Regions from separate parts of the Homo sapiens genome. Here all the other regions are linked to region 1. The links come from fine-mapping of genetic effects on gene expression. A gene starts in region 1. Each other region holds a variant in brackets. All regions are shown on one strand. Distances are between the middles of the regions.

Region 1 (4,167 bases):
TGCTGCCTCATTCTTTTATCTGCAAAAGCTTCCTGATACTGCCTGTTTCTACTGAAATGGCCATAACCACACTGAAAAAATCCAACAGGGCTCCAAAGCTCTCAGACAGGTGAAAATTCACTGCTAGAAAAACACGTAGAGAATAATACATTTAAGGTTAAGATCAGAAATTTTTTCTTTAGAACCCAAGATTCTGCCAAAGGAGACAACGAAGCATTAAAAAAAAATGATCAAAATCCTTTAACATAACTAAATAGAGAGCAAAATTATCTCTACTCTCCCGAATTTACGGCCCTGCCTTTGACAAAAGGCATTTTTTTTCCCTTCAAAGACTCCGTTCCTTTGAGAACTACCACCTGCCCATGGTGGTTTTTTTTTCCCCCCTTAAGAAGGCATCTGCACTGCAGATTTCTGCATAAGGGGAGCTTGCCAGGCAGCTCTTACCAGCAGGCAGACGCGTATACAATGCAAACTAAAGGAGGTCTGCAGCTTCGTTCTTAGTCTTTCACAGAGATGGGAGAAGGGGACTCAACCAGCCCTTGCTTTGTCTGAATGTTCTCCCCCTCCCCCTTTCTGCAATAAACACCCCCCTTTGTTATACTTCGATCAATAGTAGCCCACAGAAAACATGAAATCAAAACATGTTGATAGCTTAGCATGACTCTATTTTCTAGAATATAAGCGACTGATTGCGTGTCCCCACCCCCACGCAGCGCCAGGGAAGAGCAGGCTGTTGCAGATGCAGCCACGGATCCATCTTGGACCATTAGCAGCTCCCTCCCAAATCTTCCCTGAGCTATTCTCATCACGCCTCCTTCTACCTCGGAGCCTCAGAAAAATCCGGCATTCATGGAGTCTAGCCGAAAACAGTAAAAACAAAACAAACAAACAAAAAAAACAGGCTACAATGCTTCCATTAAACTTCCTCATCCTTCCCATGGGCAGCCAAAAATATTTTGGAGGACTATCATGAATGCTTGATTATGTCAACACCTGTCTGCAAACCTGCAATGCAACCCTTTCACCACCATCCCCTCAAAAATAGTAACAAATTGTTTCTCCCACCACCCACCTGCCCGTATCCTTTCAATCTCTCTAATCCTCACTAAATCACCCAGGTTCACCATATGCATCGAGCAACTCTCCATTTTATCCCACGAGCTGGTATTTTTCCCCACCTGCCCAGTCTTGGCGTTAACGCCCACTGGACTATCTCCCCGCCCCCAACCTGTTTTCCTCACACCCCGCTATTTCCTCACCGCCTGCACAACCTTACGTTCCCCTTCCCCTTTGCCCATTTTCCAAACGCTCGTCCCCGGGGGGCTGAAGCCGTCAGTAGTCGAGGGTAATTCGTCCTCCTCCCGCCTCGCCTCCTAATCCCCCCAGCCCCCAGGCTCCCGCTCGCCCTCTTTCCCAGGGCGGGGGCTCCCCGCGCGCCTTACCCGCACAGGAGGAGCTGCAGCTCTTCGTCCCCAGGGCGGGGCAGGCTCCTGGGCTCCCGCCGCCGCCGGGCGCGGACGGCTCGGCTCCGAAGGACGACGAGGAGATGGAATGGGACTGAGTGGCCGCCGACGGCTCCGCCATGGCTACGCGAGCGAGGGTGGGAGAAGGGTGAAAAGAGATACGGGGCGGGAGAGAGGGAGGGGAAATAGAATAATCCGGCAACTGGCTCGCTCAAGTCCCTTTACTCCGCCTGCTCCGAGGACAGACTCCGACAGACTGACTGACTCAGCCGAGCGCAGCTAGAGGGCGGGAGCGCGAGCGCGCATGCGCACAAAGGGCCCCAAGCGGGTGCCAAAGCGCGCAGCGGCGCAGGGCGCAGGCGCAAGAACCGCTCCTCTGCGCTCTTGCAGGGAAGGAGGGGCAAAGCCGGCCTCACGCGGCGCCTCGCGCGCCGAGGGTTGGGGAGCGTCCCTTGGGGACCAGACGCAAAAGGCGTATCCAAGCCCCAATCCCCGCCCACGACTGCGGCTAATCGTGGAGCTGCGGGATAGTATTCCCTCCTGCCTCTTTATGTGAATGTTTTAGGGTCGGCAGATTATGTATTTTAACGGTAGAAATGTCTTTGGGCTTCCATTATGGAAACTCTCTTTCCCGTACATTCCAGAGCCTATATCTTTTGTTTGATGCATTCCCACCTGTGACTCCAATAAAAACTGAAAACCAGAGTGTAGAGTAGGCCCACTCTGCAAGGTGCTTTGTGAATCTCACTGGCTGTGTCGTAATATCTCCTCACCGAGAGGCAGAGATGGCACGGCCCCCCATTTGGTAGGTGGAGAAAGATGCTATACAGAATGAAAAACGATTACTCATTCCAATCACATTGCAATGCAGTCGCAGAACCTGCTTCGTATTCTTATCTCGTTACTGTTGCCAGAGAAGGGTCCACCTTGGGTCTTAAGGTTCTCTTTTCCTCCGAATAGACTGTCAGATAGAGACGACATATTTTAGAGAGGGAAAAAAAATGCTGAGCTGATGAAGAAGAGCCAGGAGATAAGAAAATGTTGGCTGTGATTATGGGGGATGATAAAATTAGATATTAAAAATTCAGAATAAGGCCGCAGTCAGTGGCAGAGGCCCGTAGTCTCTGCTACGGCAGAGAAGGGAGGATCACTTGAGCCCAGGAGTTGGAGTCCAGCCTGGGCCACACAGCGAGAACCTTCCTGCCTTAAAAAAAAAAAAAAAAGTAAAAAAAATCAGAATAAGGCACAAAATACACATAATTGAATTTTATTCATAGACTAAAAGAGGTCCTTAGCAGAACATGTATTTAAAACCAGATTTCTAGCCTATATTGGATTTTGTTCATTTTTTGCTTTTCCTGGGCTGGATTGCCAAATTCGAAGCCTTCTCCCTACATCTGGTCAAAATATTGGAAAGGTGCATAGTCTTTGTTAAAGGAGGACTGTTGGCTGGGCGCGGTGGCTCACACCTGTAATCCCAGCACTTTGGGAGGCCGAGGCAGGTGGATCATCTGATGTCAGGAGTTCAAGAACAGCCTGGCCAATGTGGTGAAACCCTGTCTCTACTAAAAATACAAAAATTAGCTGGGGGTAGTGGCGGGCGCCTGTAATCCCAACTACTCGGGAGGCTGAGGCAGGAGAATTGCTTGAACTCGGGAGGCAGAGGTTGCAGTGAGCAGAGATCTCACCATTGCACTCCAGCTTGGGTGAAAGAGCAAATCTCCGTCAAATAAAAAAAAAAAAAGGAGGACTGTATCCTGGAAATAATAAAAATCAAGGCTGTCGACTGTTACTGCTAAAGCAGCAATCGATGACCCAAAGTACAATTGCAGGATCAGCAGATCCTGTAAAGATGCAGCCTCATGAAGCGGGAGGTGGTCAGCCAAGCTGCCACTGAGGGGAAAGGCGATCTGACCAGTGGAAATCTTCTAGAACAAGCTGTGTACTACATCTGCCCTTGAGTTTTTAAGGTCAGGTAAAGCCCCAGGGGGTGGGAGGATGACTCCTGGCCTTTGCAATGCTCTGAAAAAGGCATAGAAAAATATTTCCCAAAATAACTTTGTGGCTAATACCTTACCCTGGCACTTACTGCATCAGCTGATAATGCAGCAAACTGTCTCTTGGATGGCAAAGGGAAATAATAGCAGATCGGATAACCAAGCCAGTTATCTACCCATTCTGATACGTGCATATGTTTTTTTAAAAATCGCATTATTAGGGGAGCTGTTTTCTTCTTCCTTCCTTCTTTCTTGTCTATTAAACGCTCTGCTCCTTAAAACAAAACAAACAAACAAAAATCTACATTATTAAGTGCTAGATAAGGAAATAAATGATGCTGGTAGCTAACTCTGACAGCACTTGCTACAATCTGGAGACTCCAGCTGGAAGGAAGTCCATTTTCCTAATATGTAGCAGCAGAGAAGTTAAAAAGCAAGATATGCACGTGGTCTTACTGGTCTTTTCAGACCCTTCAGACATTTTTTTTTTTGAGATGGAGTCTTGCTCTATTGCCCAGGCTGGAGTGCAGTAGTGCCATCTTGGCTCACTGCAACCTCCGCCTCCCGGGTTCAAGCAGTTCTGGTTCAGCCTCCTGAGTAGCTGGGATTACAGGCACATGCCTCCATGTCCGGCTAATTTTTGTATTTTTAGTAGAGGCGGGGTTTCACCATGTTGGCCAGGGTGGTCTTGAACTCCTGACCTCGGG
Region 2 (4,167 bases), 40 kb before region 1:
TATGTTTTTATTTATTTATTTCACTGCAATGAAATGGATTATATTTTTAAAGATTTATTCATAAATAAGACAATTTTAAAAGGTTTTCACTTTTGAAAGCTGCAAGAAAGGCCTTTAAACTTCTTGGTCTAACTATACCGGTCTTCTTTAATTACAATCTAAAAACATACACTAATCATAGACTTTGGTCAGTGACAAATATCCTGAACTTCCATAGCCCTTTACATCTCTCACGCTAGATTAAATAATTCAGTTGATAATCACTAATAATTAGCATTTACACAGCACTTTATTTACTGCAACATACAAAGCAGGGCAAAATAATGATCATCACATTAACAAAGGAAGATGCTGAACCAATTAGACTAGTCATCTAAGGTCATGCTAAAACAGGAATTTGCCAGAATTAGACACTGGAGTTCTTGTAGCATAATTCCTATATGCCTTATTGCCCAAAAGTTACTACCTGTAAGAATTATGACAACTGAGGAAGAAATCTAGAATGTACCAGAGCCAGAGAATCATATTATTTAAATGATAATTGAAGACCATCTACTTCACTTTACATCCTCACTTTACAGATATTAAAACTGAGGCCCCCGAAAGGTTATGTAAGTTACTTGTTCAAAGTCATACTTCTAGACACAGCACAGCAAGAATTAGAACCTAGTACTCTTTAATCCAAATTCAGTGAGCTTCAAATGCTAGAGTATAAGAGCTATCCTTAATTGGTAATTCAAAATTTTTGGTTTATCAAAAAGCCTCAATGTCTTTCACTGATAATTGTTAGTGAAATAATTCATATCATTCATTCAACAAATAATTATCCAGTACTACTTATGTGGCAGGCCCTGTATTTGGTGCTAAATCTGACTGCATATTTACTATGTGCTAGGCACTGTATTACCTGCATTTTCATATTTAATCCTCACAATACCATTGTAAGGTTAAGTACAATTTATCTATTTTAAATATTAAAACTTAAAAAGATAAATCTACCTACAGTTTCCAGTAAGAAAATGCCTTTATAAAAAGGCACAAAATCAAACACAAAATACATTTAGCCTAACAAAAATCTAATTTTCTTGTAAATACTACAACTCTGTGTATGATTTCATTTGATAAAAGATCTATAATCAAATAGTTTAAAAACCACAGACCTCTACATAGCACCTAACACTGACCATACAGTAGATGTAAAACTTGGTATTACATTAAAGGATGGGGGTCCCTTGTAGAGGGGCTTGAAAGATCCTTTTTTTTTCTTGTACTTTCCAAGATCCCAGAATAGACAGCATTTGCAGTAATCTAACTGAAAGCCACTTGCTAGAAAAGTGATCATTTGAAATAGATAAAAGACAAGAGAAGGGGTTTCTGGTACCATCTAATAATGAGTTTTGGCCTGAAGAATATTAAATAAGATAGAAAGTAGAAGAATGCATGAGTTCTCCTAAGCATTACTCACAAAATAGTACTACAATACTGGTTACCTACTTTCAGAGCATAAAATCTCTATAGTATACGATCACATTAATTAAAAGTTTCATTTACTATCTTTCCCAGCAGGAATTCCTTTATCTTTGATTGCTAAGATTCCACAAAGCACATATCAAAAAATCCAAGTGCTAAAAAGTATGACAATTATGGAGATTTAAAAACAAGCTTTGTAAATAAGTAAGAACCTGATGATATTAGATTCTCACCTAATATCACCTTAGGGGCAACCTATAAGAAAAGAAGTACCTTGAAATATAACTGGAGCATAGAAAAAAAATTTTCTTTTTTTTTTTTTTTTTGAGACAGAGTCTTGCTCTGTCACCCAGGCTGGAGTGTACTGGCGCGATCTCATCTCACTGCAAGCTCTGCCTCCCGGGTTTACGCCATTCTCCTGCCTCAGCCTCCCAAGCAGCTGGGACTACAGGCGCCCGCCACCACGTCCAGCTAATTTTTCTGTATTTTTAGTAGAGACGGGGTTTCACCGTGTTAGCCAGGATGGTCTCAATCTCCTGACCTTGTGATCCGCCCGTCTCGGCCTCCCAAAGTGCTGGGATTATAGGCGTGAGCCACCGTACCCAGCGAGCATAGAAAAAATATTTAGGGGAAGATTAATGTTACAAAGTGGTCTACTGCTTTGGGAAATATTGATATTAAGGAAACCAAATCAAGCAATCATTTAAAAAAAGACAGGAGAAGAATCTGCCTTTCCCATCATACAGCATATTGTTTTTGTATTTTAGCCATAATTTTGTAGGTATAAATCAGACTAACA[T/A]AAATGGCACGCTGATAAGTAATCAATCACAGAATTAACCACATGCAGTATTCTAATATAAATGGTTACCTGAGAAGTCTGTCAGAAGTCTTGCTAGGACATGCTTTTTTACCAATTCAGTCTTGCTAAGGCTGGAAACAGCATCTACCCTAGTAGTTTCTCTGATAGTGATGGGCTTCTGGGAAATCCCAAGATCAGATCCATTCTTGACATTACGTTCTAGGATGTCATATGATCTCTGTGGCCAAGATTCTGGAGCAAATGTGAAAGTTTGCTTCAGTACTTCTTCAGAAGGCAATTCTGCGTCACGCTGTGCAGAAGTTGACTTCTCAACCTGTCTTTCACCTAATTCTTTAAGAGCCTTAATTGTGAGCTGTTCTTGTTCTAAGTCAAGAGATGCTACTGGAGTACCTTGGGTAGGGAAAACACCTAGAGGCTCACTTCCATTTGTTTCTTTGCTTTGTTCACTGTATTTGCTTCCAATGTCTTTAATTTCAGAACCACCGGACTCATTTTCATGTAAGACTTCTACAGGAGGAGTTGTTTTAAAGTCTGTCATCTTCTCTGATATTGCTTTAAAAGCATTTCTTTCACTATCTACTATTCCTTTATCTCTGGTTTCTGTAAAGGCTGCTATCAGGTCCTCTGGGGAGGAATCATCTATATGTTTAACATTTTTCCCATGTAATGACTCCAAATAGGCAGATGTTGTCACATTTAATGAGAATTCTGTCTCATTAAAAACATTTGGAGACACTGTTGAAGGAAGTTTGGGGTTCTCAGTAGTAATAGGCTTTTCAGGAGCAACTTCACTCACATCTTCTAAGGAGACATTCGTATCGGGTACTTTTGAACATGCTGCCTCACTAGCTGGACTCCTTCCAAGAATATCAGGCTGATCTTGATGCAGCTCAGAGTCACTGACCAATTCTTCAAAGTTTTTAGATGTTTTTTCTTCTCTCTCACAACTGGGAATCTCTTTGATTTCTCTTTCACCTGTTTTTACAACAGCACTTGGAATGGAAACAGGTTTTTCAGCCTGAATTTTGTTATTTTCAAATGATGTATCTGCTGTGATGTCCTCTATTACTGTGTCATCAGACTCACCAGAACTATCAGCTTCTGTGATTTCTCCCAATGCAGAGCTCTGCCAGTCCATTTCATCTTTCAGGTGGTCATCAGGTAAAACCACTTTCACTGTGGCCACTCCAGAACCCAAAGAGTCACATTTCTCAGGTGGAGATCCAGGTAATTCTGCAAGTGTGTCATCCTGTTTCTGCATATTGCCTTGCACACCTTTGATACTGAATTCTTTTGTGGAATTCAAAGAGTCAGGTACAGGTTTTCCAGTAATAGCATTTTCTTGCTGGAGAGATGCTTCTGCCCAATCACCTGTTGATTTAGTGATGGGAGTGCTCCCATCAATAGAACATACAGGAGTTTTCTGATGAGTGCTAGTTTTAAGATTTACAACTGGAATTTCTGAATTATATTCACTCATGTCAAGTCCTGTAGTTTTTGTGATGCAGTCAGAAGATTTATCGGTCTGTTGTTTCACTTGGGGAACCAGATCCCAAGTCAGTATTTCGTTAGTAAAGTTATGCATATCATTCACGCATCTGGACACCTCTTCCAGTGCTGCATTTGTGTGTGAAAACTGCCTACTGAGCAATGCAGACATTGGGTAACGTCCTGCCTCTTTATTTCTCAGTGGAAAAAGCTTGTCATTAGTCTCTGAAATGTCTTCGGATGATTCTTTATCAGTGTGCACAGACCAGCTACCAAAATCATCTGTGCTCTCCTTATATGAGTCTTTAAATTCTTTGTCAAATGCTGCTTTGTCAATAATTACTTCAAATGGTGATTCAGGGGAATCCTTTTCAATAACATCATCTCCT
Region 3 (4,167 bases), 87 kb before region 1:
GTCTCACTTTCCCTTTGTGTTCCCGGGCCTGGCACAGATGAGGGACATAATGAATTAAGGAATCTCCCATCTCAGGGCCTGCGTGGCACCCATCAGCATCAGGGCCTCTGACCCCAGTGGGTGAGAGGAAGTGCAACCCCCCCCCGCCCCCCTGAGCGCAGGGCCTGCCGCGAAGAGAGCAGAGCTGTGAAAGGAGACTCAGTTTACCCAAGGTGGAGTCTCAAGCACGTCAACATGGGGGCTGAGGAAGAGACGGGACATCTCCGCGGCGACAGAGCCCAGAGGCACTTAAGAAATCTTAGTTCTTGTCCCCTCCTCATAAGCACTTCGGGGACAGGTTTCCTGTGTTCCAAGTAATTTAATTCCCATGGCTCCCGAAAGGCTGGAGCGGTTTCCTTTTCAGAGGCTGTGGGTGCCTCTGAGAAGGAAAGTCACAGGCAGTATCGGTCTTGCCCATGTTTTTCAGTGCTGTGTGTCCAGCGTCTGAAAGCATGCGGGCACACAGTAGGTGGTGACAAGCGGACGAACTGCCATCGGCGACAGCTGGGTAACTCGCCAGTGCAGGGAACAAAACCCGCCTCCAGATAAGAAGACCCTGCAGGCCTCCCGCACCCTGTAATTTGGATCTCCAGGAATCGCCTTTGTTGTGGGCGCCCAACCTCAGGCAAAGCGAGCACCTGCTCCTCCCGCCGGTCCTCGCAGGAGGACCCCAGGCTGCTGCGCCCCGGCTGCCTCTCCGGGTCCCTGCGCTCCGCTTCTCCGGAGCTGGGGGACCGGGGGCGCCCCGGGACCCGCAGCCAGGGTCCGCCCAGCGCTTCCGAGCCGTGGTAACGCGCCTCCCCAGGTGCCCGACACCCCGCCCGGGGCCAGCATTTTTCGCTTCCTAGGGCCGGGCCGGGGGTCTGGGGCTGCGTCAAGGGCCTCGTCAGGCACCCCCAGGCCTGCGGGGGCAGGATCCTGAGTCACCGCCGCGCACGCCCTCTCCTCCCGGCTTCCATCCTGGGGCCACCTCCAGCCCGCAGGGTCGGGCCCCGGCGCAGCCGGCTCTCTGCGGGTCTGCTGTGCGCCCCTCTCCCCAGCCCGAGTCACTGCGGCCGCCGCCCCCACCCCTGGCTGGCTCGGGGGAGCCTCGCTTGTCCGCCCCTCCCATGAGAAGCCCGAGCTCTCAGCGCTCCCGGGCGGCTCCCGCGGGAGGGGGCGCGGCCGCCCCCACGGCTCCACCCTCTCGGCGGGGCCGCAGCCATCTGGGGCCCCTGCCAGTAGCGGCCGCTCCGGGGCCCGCACGGAGCTCGCGACCCGCTTGCGCGGCGGGAGGCAGCCCCGGGCAGGGACCCCGGCCTCCTCAGCGGGCGCTCCCGGCGCTGAGATGCCCCGAGGGGGCGGTGGCCGCGAGCCGAGCCCGGGTGGAAGCGCGTCGCAGCGGACGCGGGCGCCCCTCGCCACCTCAGTGACCCTTTGGGAGCCGGGACCGGAGCCCCGCAGGCGGCGGTGCGGGCCCGCGGGGGCGGCGAGGTCCGTGCCCCTAGCGTCCGGAGCGGGCGCAGGCTGCTGAGCCTCGGCTGGGCTCGTTGCCTCCCGCCTTTCCCCCCAGCCCCCCGCGAGCTGGCAGGAGGAAATAGCGCGCGGCCCCTTTAAATTTACCCAGGAGCCCTTAAAGGAGCCCCAGGGGCCCCAGACAGGAATCCCCACCCCGGTCCAGCCCGCGCCGCCGAGCGAGCAGCCTGCCGTCCGTGCGGCCGGCCGCCCCGTGCATGCGCCCCGCGCCCCGGGGCCCCGCGCAGCGAGCGCTCCGCGCGGGCTGCCGCCGGCCCCGCGGCCCCGCGCCCCGCCGCCCCGGGGCCCCGCTCCGCAGCGCAGCGCATGGAGCCCGGCGGGGACCACCGGAGCCGGAGCAGCGGCGGCAGGGGCGGCCCCGGGCCAGCAGTGGCCTCGGCACGGGGCCGACGGCTGCCGCCCGCCGGATCGAGCGGCAGCGCGGAGCCAGAGGAAGACGAAGGCGGTAAGAGCTGGGGCCGGCGGCCCGGGCGGGGGCCCCGGCGTGGGGGAAGGGAGGGCTGCGGCTCGGGGCCCCTCTCCGCCGCCGAACAAAGCGGGGGACGCGGGCAGGGCGGCCGGGGGCGCCACCTGGTGGGCGCGGAGCGCGGCTGCAGGGCTGGCGGGGGAGCCCCCCGCCCAGCTCCCGGGGTCGGCTCGCGGGGCTCGGGCGGCTCGCCTCCCCCTTAAAGGGCCCCGC[T/G]GCCGCCCGCAGCGCCCCGCCTTGGGGGCCAGGCCCGAGGGGCCCCACGGGGCAGGGCGCCACGGAGCGAGGCTGGACTTTGGCCCCCGCCCCTTTCTCTTTCAGACTCCCAGGTGGTCTCCCTAATCGGGCTTTCTCTCAAAAGTCCGCCCAGACCCTGGGTCCCCTTCGGGGGCTTTTCCCCAGCGGAGCTGAGCTCAGCTCCGAACTCTGCTGTTTTAAATCGGGCTGCTCCTCTCGTCTCGTGGCCTTGTGAGAGACATGCACCCTTTTTCTTTTCTCCCACATTCTCCCTAGGAAAGTGCATCGCTTGCGCCCCGGGGGCCCACACCATCTTTTCCCACCGCGGGCAGTTTTTAAAGCGATGGGTTCGCCCACAAAGGCAGGCACCCCTCCGGCCGGTGCATTCTCCCTTCCCTTCTTTTCAGAATTTTTTTTTGCCCTAATTTGTCAGCTCTAGCGGAACCAACCAGTCCTCCTCGTTCGCTCTCAAAGGAGACTGTTGACTCATTTCCCGGCTGCAGGGTCACGCCTTAAGACCCTTGAGGGTTTCCTCCAGGCCAGGGAGACTCTGCCCGAATCTCCAGGCTCCCCTCCCGGTCTCTCCCCTCCCAGAAACGCCCCATCCCCTTTTGTTTTTAAAGAACCTCGGCTCCTCCCCCTTTTTCGGCTCTTAAAGGGCCAATCCACCTTAGACTAGCCTGGATCCAGCGCTGGAAGGATGCTTAGAGACCAGCCAGCTAGCCAGTGTCGTTGCAGACAAAGAAGCTCAGGCCCAGAGTGCGGACATGACCTATCAAAGGTCACAGAGCAAGTTACCAGTGAAGCCAGGACTTGAACCCAGGCCTATGACTCCGAAGCCAGTGGATTCTATGGATCTACTTAAATAAAAACTAAAACAAAAAAACTTCCACAAGGGTGACAGGAGCCCTTTCTGATCCTGTCTTTTGTTTTCCCAACCCTGTGATTCTCCACTGGGAGAATGACCAGAACCTGCCTGTGTGCCCAGGAGACCATTTTTCTAAATCAAGAGGGGTGGGAACTGTAGGGAGGGTAGGGGACTGCTCTGGGTGGGTGTCTGGCACAGGGAACACCATTGGGTTAGTGGGGCCTCTCCAGTGCCCGCCCTTCTGACTGCTGGGCAGTGGCCGGCTCCCTGCCAGAGCAGCAAATAAAGCCCCAGAAAGACTTAATGGGCTTCAGTGGATGGTGGCCACTCCCTGCCGCAGTGTCATTAGTTGTCACTCTGGTGGCCCTCCTGCCATCCCTTTACAGGGTCATTGGCTCCTCCAGAATCTGGAGAAGTTTCAGTCTCAGAAACTCCTTTCCCTGGAGATGTTGGCAGCTTTGTCTTGGGGATCCCTCCCATGTGGGGGCCTAGATTTGGGGAACTGACAATGCCTAGCCCATCCCCAAAATGGGAGTCTCAGGAAGCTATATTTGAAGCATTACTGGAAAAAGGGAGAAGACCTGTGGGTGGGGCCCTCCTGGCGGGGGCCCCAGGTGGGTGGGTCCCGTGTGCAGCCCTGGCTGTAGACAGATGCCCCCTTTGTTTGTCTGGCCCCACTGCCTGCTCTGCTCCAGCTGGAACCGCCCTGGCCTGCTGCTCTCCTGGCTTTCTCCCTACGGCTCTTGTCCAGAAAGGGCACCTTACAGAGCTGGTTGGCTCCTTGGCCCTCACCTTATTTTTTAAAAAGTCAGAGCTATTTCCACAGTGCCCTGCGTCCTTTTGTTCTTGATCTCCTCTTAAAGGGTCCTTGCCCTTTGTAAAGGGCTAATGTTTTGGCTCCCACTTCTACCATCCCTTTTATTGCTGTTGCCGTCCCTTTCCTGCCCCGGAACACCCCCTCCCCCAGCTCCCTTTCTCAGGGCTCACCATCAAAGCCCTCGCCTCTTTCCCTGGAAATCAGAGATTGAAAAACTGTCTCCCTTTC
Region 4 (4,167 bases), 59 kb after region 1:
ATGGAATAAAGATCACAACACCATGTTATCTGTGTTTTCTTTCTCTGTGTTTTTAATATGGGAGGTTCTGTGAAATAGTTTGGCTTGGCAAAGTGAATAAGACTTCTGACGGGATAGTGGCAATGTGGTTTGAGTTAGCTTTCTCTGTCCTACAAAACGACACTGAACAAGTGTCTTACTAGCATAGTCCTGGAGAAGGCTCTATTGTTGGCAGGGTTGCTTAAAAGTGAGCACAAGGGCCAGGTGTCGTGGCTCACTCCTGTAATCAGCACTTTGGGAGGCTGAGGTGGGAGAAATGCTTGAGCCCAGGAATTTGAGACCAGCTTGGGCAACATATGGAGACACTTTCCACCTCTGTCTCTACAAAATAAAAGTGCATAGTGGCACCCACCTGTAGTCCTAGCTACTCGGGAGGCTGAGGCAGGATGATCACTTGAGCCCAAGAGTTTTGAGACCAGCTTGGGCAACATATGGAGACACCTTCCACCCCGTCTCTGGAAAAAACAAAAAACAAACCCAGGCATGACGGTGCGCACCTGTAGTCCTAGCTGCTCTGGAGGCTGAGGCAGGATGATCACTTGAGCCCAGGAGTTGGAGGCAGCAGTGAATTACGGTCCCATCACTGTACTGCAGCCTGGGCAACAGCAAGACCCTGTCTCTCAAAAAAAATTACGCAAATTTCATTTACAGTAACATGGACTTGTGAAGACCTCTGAATTTGTAGCACTTTCATTTAGTTGCCCCATCTGGAGCCAGCTGATTAAACAGTTGCTCTTCAGGGGTGGGGGCAGGGAACGTAAATCTCTACTTAAAGCTTTCTCTTTCACTGATGGACACAGTGAGGAGATTGAATTGAACTTCTCAAATACGACAAATAGCTAGACATACCCCATTTAGCCCTACAGTAAAAAGATTTCTTCCCAAGTTGGAAACACTGGGTGGGATCAGCAGACTTTCTCTATCCAACCATCCATCCCTGGTTGTTACCATGTGTCAGGTGCTTTGCCAGGTGCTGCCCTTGAGTTCATCACAGTTTAGCAGGGAAGGGGCAAACTCAGAGGCTGATGATGTGAAGAGTATGGTGAAAACAAAGATTCAGGACTTGGGTGCCACCATCTACACTGATGTGTAGACGCTCTCAGCATAAACTGGGGAGAAGGAAGGACCAGGGTGACGAATGCGGTCCTGTATAGATGGGGAGCAGTCAAGCAAGCTGGCTTGTCTTTGGCGCATTGACATTCTTGCTTTTGATTATCATATATCACTTTGCAAAAGACAAGTCCAACTCTAATTAGCTTAAAGAAGGAAAAAATTGTTAACTGGGAAAAAGTTTCTTGTAATCGGACATATAGGGGTAAAGCTGACATCAGGCACTGGAGGAACTCAAATGTCAACAGGGCTCTTATTTCAGTGTTCAGTGACCTATTTATCTGCTGTTGCAGATAGGTTTCCTCCATGCCCCAGGGGAGGACAGGCACCAGTGGTTCCAGGTTTATGTCATCCCACTTTAATGTGCCCTGAGGAAACAGGCTTTTTTTTTTTTTGAGCTACCTATGAAAAAACACGTGTGTATATCTCCATTCCAGAGAAGGCTTCTGATTTGTTTGGCTTGAGTCATGCTCCTTCCATGGTCAACACTAGCCTGGCCTCTGAGGCATTATAACCAGCCAGACCTAGGGTGCAGGTGTCTGTAGTCAGAGTGATGACCACGTGCTATGACTGACAGCTCCACCAGAACCACATGGAGTCACCAAATGAAAGACTGCTGGGCAGACCAAAACAAATAATCCATTACAGATAACCAATTCCAGTTAACAATGGCCATTGAACAACAAGAGACACAAAACCTGGACATTTCCCAGGTTAAAGGTTCTGGAATTTTTTT[G/T]TTGTTGTTGTTTGTTTCTCTGAGACTGAGTCTTGCTCTGTCGTCAAGGCTGGAGTGCAGTGGTGCAATCTTGGCTCATTGTAACCTCCGCCTCCCGGGTTCAAGCGATTCTCCTGCTTCAGTCTCCTGAGTAGCTGGGATTACAGGCGCCCGCTGCCATGCCCAGTTAATTTTTGTATTTTTGGTAGAGGCGGGATTTCGCCATGTTGGCCAGGCTGGTCTTGAACTCCTGACCTCATGTGATCCACCCACCTTGGCCTCCCAACGTGCTGGGATTACAGGCGTGAGCCACCAGTCCTGGCCTTCTGGAATGTTTTATTTTTATTTTTATCTTATTTTTTTTGAGACAGAGTCTCGCTCTGTGCCTAGGCTGGAGTGCAGTGGCTCAATCTCGGCTCACTGCAACCTATGCCTCCCGGGTTCAAGCGATTCTCTTGCCTCAGCCTCCTGAGTAGCTGGAATTACAGGCACGCACCACCATGCTAATTTTTGTATTTTTAGTAGAGATGGGGTTTCACCGTGTTGGTCAGGCTGGTCTCGAACTCCTGACCTTGTGATCCGCCCGCCTCAGCCTCCCAAAGTGCTGGGATTACAGGCGTGAGCCACCGTGCCCAGCCTCTAGAATGTTTTTTTTAAAGAGAAGGTAGAGATGGTTATGCTGCACATTTAGGCAGTGGAAGCTCTTCAGGGCATTTCAATAGGGATTTGTTCTCTTTCCTCTTCAGTAGGACTTGGGTTTCAAAGGGGATTCAGAAGGAAGTTATACTTCACTTTTGGTTTCTTTCATAAAAGCCTGATTTTTCTGGTCAGAGGAAACTATCAAAATTGGCATAGTCACATGTTTTACACCTGTGAAAACCCTGCATTCAGCTGGCTGGTGGAGCACTTGAGACATACTCCCATTTTGAATGTTGTCATGTTGTGAAATTTGTGGTTTCTGTTCCTTGTTGTGAACTTTGTGGATTCTGTTCCTTGTGTGCAAAGAAGCATTGCAAACAGCTTCCCTTTAAATGCAGTTTCCCTAAAAAAAAAAAAAAAAAAACAAAATGCAGTTTCCCTGTTCACTTTCTCTCGTCACCCTTGCACCCTTTCTTTCTCCTGCCCTGGCCTTCCTGTGTGTCACCCAGCTTGCTCAGATTCCCCATTGGGCCTATTAGGCCTGCAAAGCAAATTAGCCTGTGCAATTTTCTCCCACCTGCTCAGCTATTCCTCCTCAGAGAGTCAGCAAAACAATGGATTCTGGAGGATCCATCTATCCTCCTTAGAAGGCAGAGAATGGAGAGATTACAAATACTTAAAAACTGGCCAGGCATGGTGGCTCATGCCTGTAATCCCAGCACTTTGGGAGGCTGAGGCAGGCAGATCATCTGAGTTCAGGAATTCGAGACCAGCCTGGCCAAAATGATAAAACCCTGTCTGTACTAAAAATACAAAAATTAGGCGTGGTAGCGTGGGCCTGTAATCCCAGCTACTTGGGAGACTGAGGCAGGAGAATCGCTTGAACCTGGGAGGCGCAGGTTGCAGTGAGCTGAGATCATGCCACTGCACTCCAACACTCTAGTCTGGGAGACATAGCAAGACTCCGTCTCAAAAAAAAAAAAAAATTAATAGTTTCCTCCTTATCACAAGAGGAATGGGGCTTCATAGCCATGCTATGCAGAAAAGCCTGGAAGCTTTGGAGGTGGACACTAGTTGGATCCTGGCATCACAGTCCACCTGTCCACCTGCTCTGTGCGGGGGGTAAGGACCGTCTTGTTGGTGATGGTGTGGCATCATGGGGCAGTTTCTCAGTAAGTCCCGGGGCCTTTCTTAGAGAGCTCCTCTTTTGAGAACTGTGTGAGAAGTGAAAATACATAGCCCTCAGTACTGTTCCCCCTTCCCAGTATGATTTTTTTTTGGTTTTGTTTTGCTTTTTTTCTGGCACAGCAACAGGAAAAGATAAGGGAGGTGACATCTGGGTGCTTCTGGAAGCAGAGGGTGAGGAAAGGCAGAAGTCAGCCCGGCTGCCTCAAAACCGAACCTGTCCATCCTGGGTTTGGATGACCTTATAGTCAGTCCCTGGCTCAGGGTGCTCCGTAATTTGTTTGATGAGTGATAAGGCACATAAAGCTATGGTATTTATATTGCCTCTGAGTCTCCTTGTCAGAAAGCTGGTGAAGATCATGTGATGTTGATGGGCACATACCTATTCTCATGTTAATAACAGCCACCGTGTGTTGTGTGAGGATTTACCACGTGCCAGACGTCAGGCTCAGCACTTTATTTTTATTTTATTTTATTTT
Region 5 (4,167 bases), 48 kb before region 1:
ACCAACCTGGCAAACATGGTGAAACCCTGTCTCTACTTAAAATACAAAAATTAGTGGGCGTGGTGGTACGCGCCTGTGATCACAGCTACTCGGGAGGTTGAGGCACAATAATCATTTGAACCCGGGAGGCAGAGGTTGCAGTGAGCTGAGATCACACCACTGCACTCCAGCCTGGGAGGCAGAGTGAAACTGTGTCTCCAATAAATAAATAAAAAAAAAAATCCTTTGAAATTTGCTGAGTTGTTTTGTGGGCCTAGTAGTATATTATCGATACCAATGAATGCATACCTTATACACTTGTAAAATAATGTGTATTCTGCTATTGTAGGGAGTAGTGTTCTATAACCACCATCTAAGTCAAATTCATTGATTGTACTGTTCAGATACCTGGGTGTGTCTAGTTAATTGCTGAGAAAGAGGTATTAAATTTTCCAATTATTACAGATTGCCAATATATCTCCTTAATTCTGCCTTTTTGGGAGACAGGGTCTCACTCTGTCACCAGGCTGGAGTGCAGTGGTGTGATCATGGTTCACTGCAGCCTCCACCTCCTGGGCTCAAGCAATCCTCCGCCTCAGCCTCCTGAGTAGCTGGGACTACAGATGCATGCCACCAAACCAGTTAATTTTTGAATTTTTGTAGAGATGGGGGTCTCTACAAAAAAACTCCAGGGTAGGGTTATGTTGGGTTAAGGGTTATGTTGCCCAGGCTGGTCTCAAACTAGTCTCAAGTGATCTTCTCACCTTGGCCTCCCAAAATGTTGGGGTTACAGGCATGGGCCATTGCCCAGCCAATTCTGTCAATTTTTGCTTTGTGTATTTTGAAGCCATTATTAGGCACATACACACTTATAACTGTCAAGACTTCCTGGTATCTTTTATCATGATAAGATGTCCCTTATTTATTTCTGATAAAAGCTTTCATCTTCTTATGCTTACTGTTTGCATGGCATACATTTATAAATTTTTTGGGATATCTTTTCCATCCATTTACTTTCAACCTGTGTCTTTATATTTAAATAACATCTTTTGGCCGAGCACGGTGGCTCACGCCTATGATCCCAGCACTTTGGGAGGCCGAGGAGGGTGGATCACTAGAGGTCAGGAGTTTGAGATCAGCCTGACAAACATGGTGAAACCTCATCTCTACTAAAAATACAAAAATAAGCCAGGCGTGGTGGTGAGTGCCTGTAATCCCAGCTACTTGGGAGGCTGAGGGAGGAGAATCCCTTGAACCCGGAAGGCAGAGGTTGCAGTGAGCTGAGATCACGCCACTGCACTCCAGCCTGGGTGACAGAGTGAGACTCTGTCTCAAAAAATAAATAAAAATAAAATTAATTTAAAAACTAGTTGGGCATCGTGGCATATACCTATAGTCCCAAAAAGGTGAAGTGGGAGGATTGCTTGAGCCTGGGAGGTTGAGGTACAGTGAGCTGTGTTCATGCCACTCACTGCACTACAGCCTGGGTGACAGAGCGAGACCCTGTCTCCAAATATATATATATTTATAGTACCATTACATTAAAAATGTAGAAACAGGCTGGGCATAGTGGCTCATGCCTATAATCCCAGCACTTTGGGAGACCAAGGTGGGAGGATTACTTGAGCCCAGGAGATCAATGCCAGTGTTGGCAACATAATGAGACTCTGTCTCTACTAAAAAAATAAAAAAATTAGCTAGGTGTGGTGGCATGCACCTGTGGTCCCAGGTACATGGGAGGCTGAGGCACGAGGATTGCTTGAGCCCAGGAGGTCTA[G/C]GTTGCAGTGAGTCATGATTGCACCACTGCACTCCAGACTGGGATACAGAGCCACAGAGCCAGATCCTGTCTCAAACAAACAAAAAAAAAAAAAAAAAAAAAAAGCAGAAACCTTTGCTATAGTACAGTCCATATACTCGTTTTTTTCTGTTATAATTGTCCTAAGAAATAAACATCATAACCTCTATACACGTTATTACAATTTTTGCTTTAAGCAATCCTATATATTTTAAGAAATTAAGAGGAAAAAAATAAGCCTTTCATATTCACCCAGGTGTTTACCACTTCCAATTCTCTTCATTCCTTCCTAAAGGTCTGAGTTTTTATTTGGTATCACTTTCCTTTAATCTGAAAAACTTCCTTTAGCATTTCTTGTAGTGCAGGTCTTCTGGTAGAATTCTTTTAGTTTTCTTTTATCTAAAAATGTCTTTTAATCTTGCAGTTTTTTTGTTTTTTTTGTTGTTTTTTTCCTGAATACAGAAACCTGGGTTGACAGGTTTTTTTTCCCTGTTGGGCACTTTATAAGATGTTACTCTACTGCCTTTTAAACATCTGTGGTTTCTAGTAAGAAGTAAGCTCTAATTATAATTGTCATTTCCCTGTGTCATTCTTCTCTAGCTACTTTCTTTTCTTTTTTCTTTTTTTTTTTTTTTTGAGACGGAGTCTCGCTCTGTCGCCCAGGCTGGAGTGCAGTGGCGCAATCCCGGCTCACTGCAACCTCCGCCTCCTGGGTTCAAGTGATTCTCTTGCCTCAGCCTCCTGGGTAGCTGGGATTACAGGTGTGCACTGCCACCCCGGCTAATTTTTGTATTTTTAGTAGAGATGGGGTTTTACCATGTTGGTCAGGCTGGTCTCGAACTCCTGACCTTGTGACCCACCTGTCTCGGCCTTCCAACGTGTGGGGATTACAGGCGTGAGCCACCGCGCCCAGCCTCTTCTCTAGCTACTTTCAAGATTTTCTCCTTATTTTTGGTTTTCAGCAACTTGACTACGATACACTGTATAGGAAAGGGTGAAAACTCAGCAGGCCTAGAATGCCAAGCCCTGCACATGCCAAAGAAAGGTCTGTCTTCAGGACTAGCCCTTTGCTGGCTCCTTGGAGATGGCCTCTGAGCCCTTTGAATATTCTGCTTCATAAGTATTTTTGCATGCCTGAGGTCTTAGGCCATGCTGTATCAGATAAATTTATCCTAACAATATGATTTATTGCCAGTACATGTTTTTGCTCTGGGGGTCTGGGGTCTGAGTAGCTGAGTTCAGTCATATGGGCACTGCATGCCGTGCTAGACACCAAAGATTGAAAGAGCTTCCTTGGTTGGGAATCCTTTGCACATGTTATCACGCATCACTGTAAAAGAATTAAGTACATCCCTGTATGACTCCATTCAATACCTGGAAGCTTGCATCTGATCTCTCCTAGATTTTATCCCGTGTGTCTTTTCCTCTGGCCAATTCTAACCTATGTCCTTTTGCTGTAATAAACCATTAACTGCTAGTTTACAGTTTATGAGTCCTATGGGTCCTTCTAGCAAATCACTGGCCCTGATGGTTATCTTGGGGACCCCGACACATACACCAAGGTATGGTTTTCTTTGTAATTATCCTAGTAGGTGGTGTTTGATGAGCGTCTTTCATCAGTAAATGTGCCTTTCATAAAATTTAAGAAAATTTCAGCCATTTTATCTTTAAATATGTCCTTCTCCAGTCTCTCTCTCACTTTCCTCTCCTGCTAGGACTCCAATTATAAAAAATAGGTTTTGCAGGTCTCGCACTCCTGGGCTCAAGTGATCCTCCTGCCTCGGCCTCCCTAAGTGCTGAAGTGGTGGGATTACAGACGTGAGCCACTGTGCCTGGCCAAAGTTAGGTCTTTTGATATTGTCCCACAGGGTTCTGAAGCTCTGGTGACACTTTTAAAAAATATGTGTTCTTTCTGTTCTTTAGTATGCTATCAAGTTCACCAGCTTCTTCCCCTGTCATCTCCATTTTGCTGTTAAGGTCACCTGCTGAATTTTAATTTCAGTGGTTATATTTTACAGTTCTAGAATCCCCACCTGACTCTTTTTTGTTTCGATTTCTAGGTTGAGATTTTCTTTTTTATTCAATACAAGAATATTTCCCTTTACTTCTTTGAGTGATTAAAATGAAAACCCTTAAAATCCTGACTCCTAATTCCAACACATGCAGTTAGTTTCTATCGATTGTCTCTTTTTCTTCAGACTGAGTTATAATTTCTTGGTTCTTAAAACATGTAGTTTTGGATTATATCCTGGACATTGTGAATATTATGCTGTACAAATTCCAGACTGTGTTCTATTCCTCTGGAGAGTATCATTACTTTTGTTTTAACATGTAATAAATTTGGTTAGATTCAAACTGCAAACTTTTTTTTTCAAGATAGAGTCTTACTCTGT
Region 6 (4,167 bases), 300 kb before region 1:
GGTGGAGGGAGGGGAGGAGACCCCATAGTGGGACTCAGGGACTGTGAAACTTCAGCCTTAGAGGAAGTTTACACAACAGCCCAGAGGCCCCAAGGGGCCACATGGCTCCAGACCCACCCAATCTCTTCTGCCTCTGCCTCTCAGGGAAGGGAGTCAGGCTGAATGGACCAAGACAACAGGGGCATGGCATGGGCCCTGGAACAGCCACAGTCCTCACAGGAAGGTGTGGCCAGCCCAAAGCCTGGAAGGGTGGGCCACACATGGGGATTAGGCGACCATTCTCGGTGCAGGCTTGGGAGTCGGGCAGCTGCCCAGACAGCGGGAGTAGGGGCATGCTTGGCCCCCACATAAACCTTGCATTGTACCCACGAGAGTCTCCAGGCAGCAGCCCTGAAATCGTGGTCTAGGGAGGCTTTGACAGCAGCAAAGGCTGATGCGGCAGAGCAGGGTCTATGCCTCAGGGCCATAAGTTGGGCTGTGAGTCACCTGCAGGATTCAGACCTCCTAAGGCCGAAAGCAAGCAGAGGGGCAGAGGCAATGCAGGCAGAGCCCCTCCCAAGCAACTCCCACCACCCCAGTCCTCGCTGGGGCACCCACTGTAAGTGCTGTACATTCACTTCACTTTATGCCTGCAGACGGTCCCAGCAGCTGGGCCCAGACCCTCCCCAGGGCCTCACAGCACCACATGATGCATTACTTTCCTTATTGCTTCCGTAACGAGTCACCACAAACCTAGTGGCTTAAAACAACACAAATTTATTCTCTTACAATTTTTTTTTTTTTGAGACGGAGTCTTGCTCGGTTCCCCAGGCTGGAGTGCAGTGGTGCGATCTCGGCTCACTGCAAGCTCCGCCTCCCGGGTTCAAGCGATTCTCCTGCCTCAGCTTCCTGAGTAGCTGGGATTATAGGCACCCACCACCACGCCCAGCTAATTTTTTGTATTTTTTGTAGAGACAGGGTTTCACCATGTTGGCCAGGATGGTCTCGATCTCTTGACCTCGTGATCCACCTGCCTCAGCCTCCCAAAGTGCTGGGATTACAGGTGTGAACCACCATGCTCAGCCTCTCTTACACTTTAGGAGGTCAGAAGTCTGGGTTTCACCAGACTAAAATCAAGGTGTCTGCAGGCTGCATTTCTTTCCAGAGGCTCTAAAGGAGATCCACTTCCTACTCGTTCGGGTTGGCAGAAGGTAGGACCAAGGTCCCCATGTTCTTGCTGGCTGTAAAGGAGGGCTGTTCCCAGCTTCTAGAGGCCCCTGCAGTCCTTGGCTCATGGCCCGCTTCCTCTGTCCTTAAAGCCAGCAACGGTAGGCTAAGTGCTTCTCACTTCAGGACTTATGACGACATTGCGCCCGCCTGGATCTCCAAGGATAGCCTTTCATTTCAAGGTCATGACCTTATTCACATCTACAAAGCCCCCATGCCATGTAAGATAACATATTCACTGGTTCCAGGGAGTAGACCATGGGCATTTTCGGGGGGCCATTATTCTGTCTGCCACAATATCTTCATTTTACAAAACTGAGATTCAGAGACCAGATGACTTGCCCAAGGTCGTACAGTTCAGTGGCCATGCCAGGCCTCAAGCCCAAGCCTCCCCACTCCCAGACCACTGTTCCTGACATTACAGCACCTGCCGGGACTTTAGCCTCTCCAGTCAGCATGCACACCAGGCACAGAAACCCACACATGTGGACACAGAAAATGTTTGGGGTATAAGGATCCTTGCTTTCTCTATAGAGAATTGCTCCAGGGCCCTGAATTGGTTGGGGACAAGGGTAGGCCAGTGGAAGACCGGATTTCAGACCTAATGGCCACACAGGGGACCAAGGAGTTTGGGGTTCAAACGTGATAGGTCACTCAAACTCTACACTGTCCTGCCCACCCCTACATACATCACCCCACCCATCCCCACAAATGCAGGACATGGCAGGTTGTGGGAGGAAGAGGGGCTGGAGGAACTGCTGGGCTTGCTGAGGGCTTCTTCAGACCAGGGTCCTGAAGGACTTGCCTGGAGC[C/T]ATTGGTGTTGCACAGGTTGGGGCAGTGGCTCAATCAATCAAACTTTGGGCTGGAGCAGTCCTCCTCGGAGGGGGACCAGCACCCATCATTCAATTCCAGGGGCACAAAAATGGAGGACACCCAATCAAACCCTTAGCAGGGCAGTGGAGTTACCATAGAAACTCAAGACAGGCTGGGTGCGGTGGCTCACGCCTGTGATCCCAGCACTTTGGGAGGCTGAGGCGGGTAGATCACGAGGTCAGGGGATTGAGACCATCCTGGCTAACACAGTGAAACCCCATCTCTACTAAAAACACAAAAAATTAGCCAGGCGTGGTGGCGGGTGCCTGTAGTCCCAGTTACTCAGGAGGCGGAGGCAGGAGAATGGCATGAACCCGGGAGGCAGAGCTTGCAGTGAGCCGAGATGGCGCCACTGCACTCCAGCCTGGGTGACAAAGCAAGACTCCATCTCAAAAAAAAAAAAAAGAAAAAGAGAAAGAAAAGAAACTCAAGACAACAGGCTGGGTGCAGTGGCTCACGCCTGTGATCCCAGCACTTTAGGAGGTCCATGTAGGAGGATCACCTGAGGTTAGGAGCTGGAGACCAGCCTGGCCAACATGGTGAAACCCCATCTCTACTAAAAATACAAAAATTAGGCAGGTGTGGTGGCCTGCGCCTATAGTCCCAGCTACTTGGGAGGCTGAGGCAGCAGAATTGCTTGAACCTGGGAGGCGGAGGCTGCAGTGAGCCAAGATCGTGCCACTGCACTCCAGCCTGGACAACAGAGCAAGACTCTGTCTTCAAAAAAAAAAAAAAGAAAGAAAGAAAAGAAGGCTGGGCACAGTGGCTCATGCCTATCCTAACACTTTGGGAGGCCAAGGCGGGTGGATCACCTGAGATCGGGAGTTTGAGACCAGCCTGACCAACATAGAGAAACCCCATCTCTACTAAAAATACAAAATTAGCTGGGTGTGGTGGTGCATGTCTGTAGTCCCAGCTACTCGGGAGGCTGAAGCAGGAGAATCGCTTGAACTCGGGAGGCAGAGGTTGCCAATGACCCAAGGTCGTGCCATTGCACTCCAGCCTGGGCAACAAGAGCAAAACTCCGTCTCAAAAAAAAAAAAAAAGAAAAACTCAAGATCACACTTTTTCCAGTGCCACGTCCTTGCTGTGTGCAGCCCCGTGGTTATGAGACCAGCACCTCATCTGTGCCCACAGCCAGAGGAAAGCAGCCCTGAGTCAACCAAGGGCCAGGACACTCAGGGCCCTCTACTCAAGAAGTGCAGGCTTGGTGGGAATGCCCCGGCCTCCCACACCGCAGTGGCTGGTCCCCAGGGCCAGGGAGCTGCCAGCCAGGCCAGGAGATGGGCCTGAGAGGACAGTCAGGGGGCGCTCAGGTCCCACCTCCACAGGGACTAATGTAAGCAGAAAAGCCTCCCAGAACCATGCACAGAACAAGGGGTGGTCCTGTTGTGTGGAAGATGGCCATGAGGACCCTCCATCCAGAAACAAGGGACCTGTTGTGATACCTGTATGTGGCAGGTGGATTCTCCTAGGTCAGTACCCCATCCTGGCTCCAGATCCAACATAGGCTCTCCCCTCCCTGGCCGATGCTCCCACCGGGCACACCTGCAGCATTCTGAACCCCACTAGGGGCAACAGGCCCAGGCAGCTTCTCCCCGGCCCTCCAACTAGGCCCTGACCCTTCAGCCTCATATACAAAGTCTGGCTTGTGTGGAAGGAAAGGAGCCACCTAGGAGGCAGAGGACAATTTCCTAACGCTCAGGGAAACAGCTATGGCAGGAGCTAAACCCAGTACGGTATCAGGCACTGGGCCCCACAGGCTTCCCTGGGCATCACGCAGAAAAGCCAAGCAAGACCAGGCTACGGCAGGAGAGTCAGGTCCACCCTCAGCTCTGTCAACATAAATCAGGAAACAACCTGCAGAACAGGAGCTAGGAAGACGTGTGTTCAGACACTCAGGGCCTGAGGCCAACCACAGCCCTCCCCTCTCACCTGACATCTTTGCCCACTGTTCCAGGCACAGGCGTCCTGGCAGCCTCAGCTCCACAGGGGAGACTGAACCTGTGTCTTTTCAGAAATCAACCAAGTCACCCCAGCAAAGAGGATGCAAAGGAGAGGTAAAGCCATGTCTTCCTCGAGGGTGGG
Region 7 (4,167 bases), 59 kb before region 1:
GCATGAGCCACTGCGCTGGCCTACAATCCTAGTAGGTTTTTGTAAAAATGGACAAGCTAATCTAAAATTCCTATGCAAATTCAAATGTAAAGAACCTAGAAGAGCCAGGCAAGGCGCGGTGGCTCATGCCTGTAATCCCAGCACTTTGGGAGGCCGAGGCAGGTGGATCACAAGGTCAGGAGATCGAGATCATCCTGGCTAACACGGTGAAACCCCATCTCTACTAAAAATACAAAAAATTAGCCGGGTGTGGTGGCAGGTGCCTGTAGTCTCAGCTACTTGGGAGGCTGAGGCAGGAGAATGGCGTGAACCCAGGAGGTGGAGCTTGCAGTGAGCTGAGATCGCGCCACTGCACTCCAGCCTGGGCAACAGAGCGAGACTCCATCTCAAAAAAAAAAAAAACCTAGAAGAGCCAAAACAACTTTGAAAAATAAAGTTAGAAGATTAACATGACCTGATTTTAAATATAAAGCTACCATTATCAAGATGCTATAGTACTGGTCGAAAGATAATAGAGCAATAGAATGGTATAGAAAATCCAGAAACAGACAATTGTGCATTAAGAGATGTTTAAAGATTATTTCAGGCCAGGCGCAGTGGCTCATGCCTGTAATCCCAGCCCTTTGGGAGGCTGAGGCGGGAAGATCACCTGAGGTCACAAATTCGAGACCAGCCTGGCCAACACGGCAGAACCCCATCTCTACTAAAAACACATAAGTTAGCTGGGCATGGTGGTACATACCTGTAAGTTTCAGCTACTGGGGAGGCTGAGGCAGTAGAATCACTTGAACCCGGGAGGCAGAGGTTGCAGTGAGCCAAGATCATGCCACTGCATTCCAGCCTGGGCAATAGAATGAGACGCTGTCTCAAAAAAAAAAAATAAATGCTGGGCACGGTGGCTCATGCCTGTAATCCCAGCACTCTGGGAAGCTGAAGCGGGTGGATCACTTAAGGTCAGGAATTTGGGAACAGCCTGGCCAACATGGTGAAACCCCCTCTCTACTAAAAATACAAAATTAGCCAGGCGTGGTGGCACACGCCTGTAGCCCCAGCTACTCAGGAGGCTGAGGCACAAGAATTGATTGAACCCAGGAGGCGGAGGTTGCAGTGAGCCAAGATCAAGCCACAGCACTGCAGCCTGGGCGACAAGAGCGAAACTCCATCTCAAAAAATAAATAAATAAATAAATAAATAAATAACTATAATAAAATAAAGATTATTTCACCCCTTAATGCTTCCTGGCTTCCACTTGGCCATGGATCCCTACCTAGTAAAATACTTTATCCCCAGCTTTAGAGTTAGTACAGCACAGAAATGACTCTGGCTCCAGAATGCCTGAGTTTGTATCCTCTTCCATTTGCCAGCTCTGTGATTTTGGACAAGACACTCAATCTCTCTGTGCATCGGGTCCCTCATTTGTAAAATAGGATAATACAAGATCAACTTCATAGGGATGTTGCCAGGATTAAGTGGATTAATGTGTAGAAGTGCTCAGAATACTATTGATTAGATAGTAACACAATATCAGCTATTATTATTCATTTGACTGCCAACCTCTGCTACAATTGTAACAGAAAATTTAAGAATTGAAGTTAAAGTTAGCTATAGAGCAACAAGATTTTTTCCTTTCCTCTTTGTTGCCAGTAAGATACAAAGAAATTAAAGGTGGCTCATGACTGTAATCCCAGCACTTTGGGAAGTGGAGGCTGGAGGATCGCTTGAATTCCAAGAGTTTGAAACCAGCCTGGGCAACATAGTGAGACCCTATCTCTATTAAAAGAAAAAAAAAGGCCAGGCGCGGTGGCTCATGCCTGTTATCCCAGCACTTTAGGAGGCCGAGGCAGATGGATCACGAGGTCAGGAGTTTGAGATCAGCCAGGCCAACATAGTGAAATCCTGTCTGTACTAAAAATACAAAAAAAAAAAAAAAAAAAAAATTAGCCAGGCATGGTGGCAGGCACCTGTAGTCCCAGCTACTTGGGAGGCTGAGGCAGGAGAATCACTTGAACCTGGGGAGTGAAGGCTGCAGTGAGCCAAGATCACACTGCTGCACTCTAGCCTGGGTGACAGAGTGAGACTCCGTCTCAAAAAAAAAAAA[G/AG]AAACTAAGATGGGGAGGTTAGAAGGGGCCTTATTAACCAAATCTATTTTATGTATCAAACTTCCATATAAACTTTTCTATGAAAAAGTGTTGCGCTATCAGAACTATGATTAAATAGATTGGTGTGTAAATGATATACGGAGACAGAGGACCAGGAGATAGAGGCAGTATGATACATCACCTATGGGGCAGACCAGACCAACATAGAGTATAGATTTGGGAGTTATCAACATGTAGGTAGTAATTTGAAGCTACGGAAACAGAAGGGATCACTTTGAGGCATCTCAGCCCCTCAAATTCCACACATCAAAGAAAACATCATTTCTGACTGACATTCTTCCCTGATCAGAAAATAGTTCTACCATCCACCCAGAAACCCAAGACAAATACAGAAATAGGGTTCACTCTTCTTTCTCCCTCATCATCTACACTCAAACATCAGGGCTGGTTAAAGTCTATCTTTTTGAATTTATCAGAAAAAATTAAAGTCTTTTGATTAAGAGTCTTAAACATTTTTATGTCTTAAATTTACCTTCTATGAGCAGACTCTTTAGAGAAGACTGTCCAAGTCAGTGACTCTCAGCTGCATGTGAGATGGGATAAAGGACGTGGGATGGGGAGTAGATCCTGACTCCTGATGGTGCATGTCACCTTTTTAAAGCTATGGACAAATTATTGCTTGATTCTGGTTATGTGTCAGGTAGAGAATCACTACTGGAGAGAGCCACTGATACAGACAGGGAATGTCCTTTTCTTTGGGTGTGCTATGTGTTATCTTGGGTGTTCTAAAACAGAAGAGAATTGTGAGGCAATGGGCTAACGAACTGCCACACTAGTACACAACCTTATAGAGAAAGAATGAAGCCTTGGCTAGTCTCTTCCTAAAGTCCTACAGGGAAGTGACCCAAGCTAGTTCAAAAGGTACTGGAAAAATAAAAAGCCAAAAATTCTCAAAAGAACGAAGTCAATGTTCCCTTACTTTTCAGGTTACAACTTTATCTTTAATATCATATCACTTAATTTTTTTTCATTTAAAGGACCTTACTTTTTTCTCTTTTCGTGATTCATTACATAAGTAAAATCACTAATTTTTCAGTTATATTATTTTGCTAATGACAGATGAAACATCTGACAAGGAATGTCTGCACCAAGAGTTTACGTTGCTGGTGGAATTACGACTGATTCCTTCTTTTTATTTTCCAAATCTTTTGTAATGTGGCCATATTACTTTTATTTTAAAAACTTTAAGGTATTTATTTTAAAGTTTTATTTTATTAAAGTATCTATTTCTTGTCCCTGTTATTTAAGGACGCCGGCTGCAGTACCCAAGTTACACCTGAAGAGGGCACTAACACATCCAATGGTAATCTCAGGCTAAGGAAAAAGGAAATCAGTCTTGTGCCATTTCCAGGAGGAACAGCAGTAAACCTTACTGATTCCTCACCCGTTAATTTTATTACCGAATTTGGGGAAAGCTCTTGTTTTGATTCTAACTAGCCATTTCCAAAAGTCAATTGACTTTATTCTCCCAAGTATACACCTCAAAGGTAGAAAAGAAGAGCTGTTCAAATACTTATTCTGAAAAGGAACAAATGTGAAAGAAATTTCAAGGTTTAGTAGTCTGTCAGCTTTACCTTCTTTTTTTTTTTTTTTTTAAAGACAGGGTCTCACTCTGTCACCCAGGCTGGTGTGACTACAGCTCACTGTAGCCTCGACTTCCCGAGCTCAGGTGATCCTCCTGCCTCAGCCTCCCAAGTAGATGGGACTACAGGTACATGCCACCATGCCTGGCTAATTTTTTAAATTTTTTGTACAGATGGGGGTCTCAGTTTGATGCCCACGCTGGTCTTAAACTCTTGGGCTCAAGCAATCTGCCCTCCTTGGCCTCCCAAAGTGCTGGAATTACAGGCGTGAATCACTGAACCCAGCCACTTCATTTTTTAAGAACAAATAAATCTCCAATTCATTCCACCTTCCTTGCAACAGTTTCTTAAAACTTGTCTATAACACATCCCTAAGAACACTCAAACATGCCTGAAATAACTAAAAGGAAAAAAAAGGCCATGTTT

What was found.
Region 2: its variant is fine-mapped to the expression of RTN3 in whole blood (INTERVAL, PIP above 0.99).
Region 3: its variant is fine-mapped to the expression of RTN3 in whole blood (TOPMed, PIP above 0.99). The same link has a PIP of 0.9 or more in monocytes.
Region 4: its variant is fine-mapped to the expression of RTN3 in blood mononuclear cells (TOPMed, PIP above 0.99).
Region 5: its variant is fine-mapped to the expression of RTN3 in whole blood (TOPMed, PIP above 0.99). The same link has a PIP of 0.9 or more in blood mononuclear cells.
Region 6: its variant is fine-mapped to the expression of RTN3 in whole blood (TOPMed, PIP above 0.99).
Region 7: its variant is fine-mapped to the expression of RTN3 in whole blood (INTERVAL, PIP above 0.99).

Annotation. Positions count from the first base shown.
Region 1 is chr11:63,679,054-63,683,220 of GRCh38, reverse strand. RTN3 (reticulon 3) reads right to left here and starts at 1,721. Exons shown (of 9, transcript NM_001265589.2): 1 at 1,443-1,721. The coding sequence starts at 1,584. RefSeq lists a silencer at 1,429-1,548.
Region 2 is chr11:63,719,204-63,723,370 of GRCh38, reverse strand. RTN3 (reticulon 3) reads right to left here. Exons shown (of 9, transcript NM_001265589.2): 3 at 2,339-4,167. Among named protein-coding and RNA genes, the nearest start is that of RTN3, 40 kb to the right of the region's middle. The variant T/A (reference allele first, on the strand shown) is at 2,270.
Region 3 is chr11:63,766,316-63,770,482 of GRCh38, reverse strand. ZFTA (zinc finger translocation associated) reads left to right here and starts at 1,708. Exons shown (of 5, transcript NM_001144936.2): 1 at 1,708-1,999. The coding sequence starts at 1,861. RefSeq lists silencers at 892-1,361, 1,382-1,591, 1,722-1,771, 1,992-2,291. The variant T/G (reference allele first, on the strand shown) is at 2,234.
Region 4 is chr11:63,619,943-63,624,109 of GRCh38, reverse strand. The region is part of intron 1 of LNCROPM (lncRNA regulator of PLAAT3 mediated phospholipid metabolism); the gene reads right to left. It overlaps ATL3 (atlastin GTPase 3), which reads left to right. Exons shown (of 13, transcript NM_015459.5): 13 at 1-23. Among named protein-coding and RNA genes, the nearest start is that of LNCROPM, 5.7 kb to the right of the region's middle. The variant G/T (reference allele first, on the strand shown) is at 1,886.
Region 5 is chr11:63,727,130-63,731,296 of GRCh38, reverse strand. All of the region lies in intron 3 of RTN3 (reticulon 3), which reads right to left. Among named protein-coding and RNA genes, the nearest start is that of ZFTA, 40 kb to the left of the region's middle. The variant G/C (reference allele first, on the strand shown) is at 1,757.
Region 6 is chr11:63,978,810-63,982,976 of GRCh38, reverse strand. No RefSeq gene overlaps it. Among named protein-coding and RNA genes, the nearest start is that of OTUB1, 5.5 kb to the left of the region's middle. RefSeq lists an enhancer at 3,675-4,167. The variant C/T (reference allele first, on the strand shown) is at 2,019.
Region 7 is chr11:63,738,219-63,742,385 of GRCh38, reverse strand. All of the region lies in intron 3 of RTN3 (reticulon 3), which reads right to left. Among named protein-coding and RNA genes, the nearest start is that of ZFTA, 28 kb to the left of the region's middle. The variant G/AG (reference allele first, on the strand shown) is at 2,099.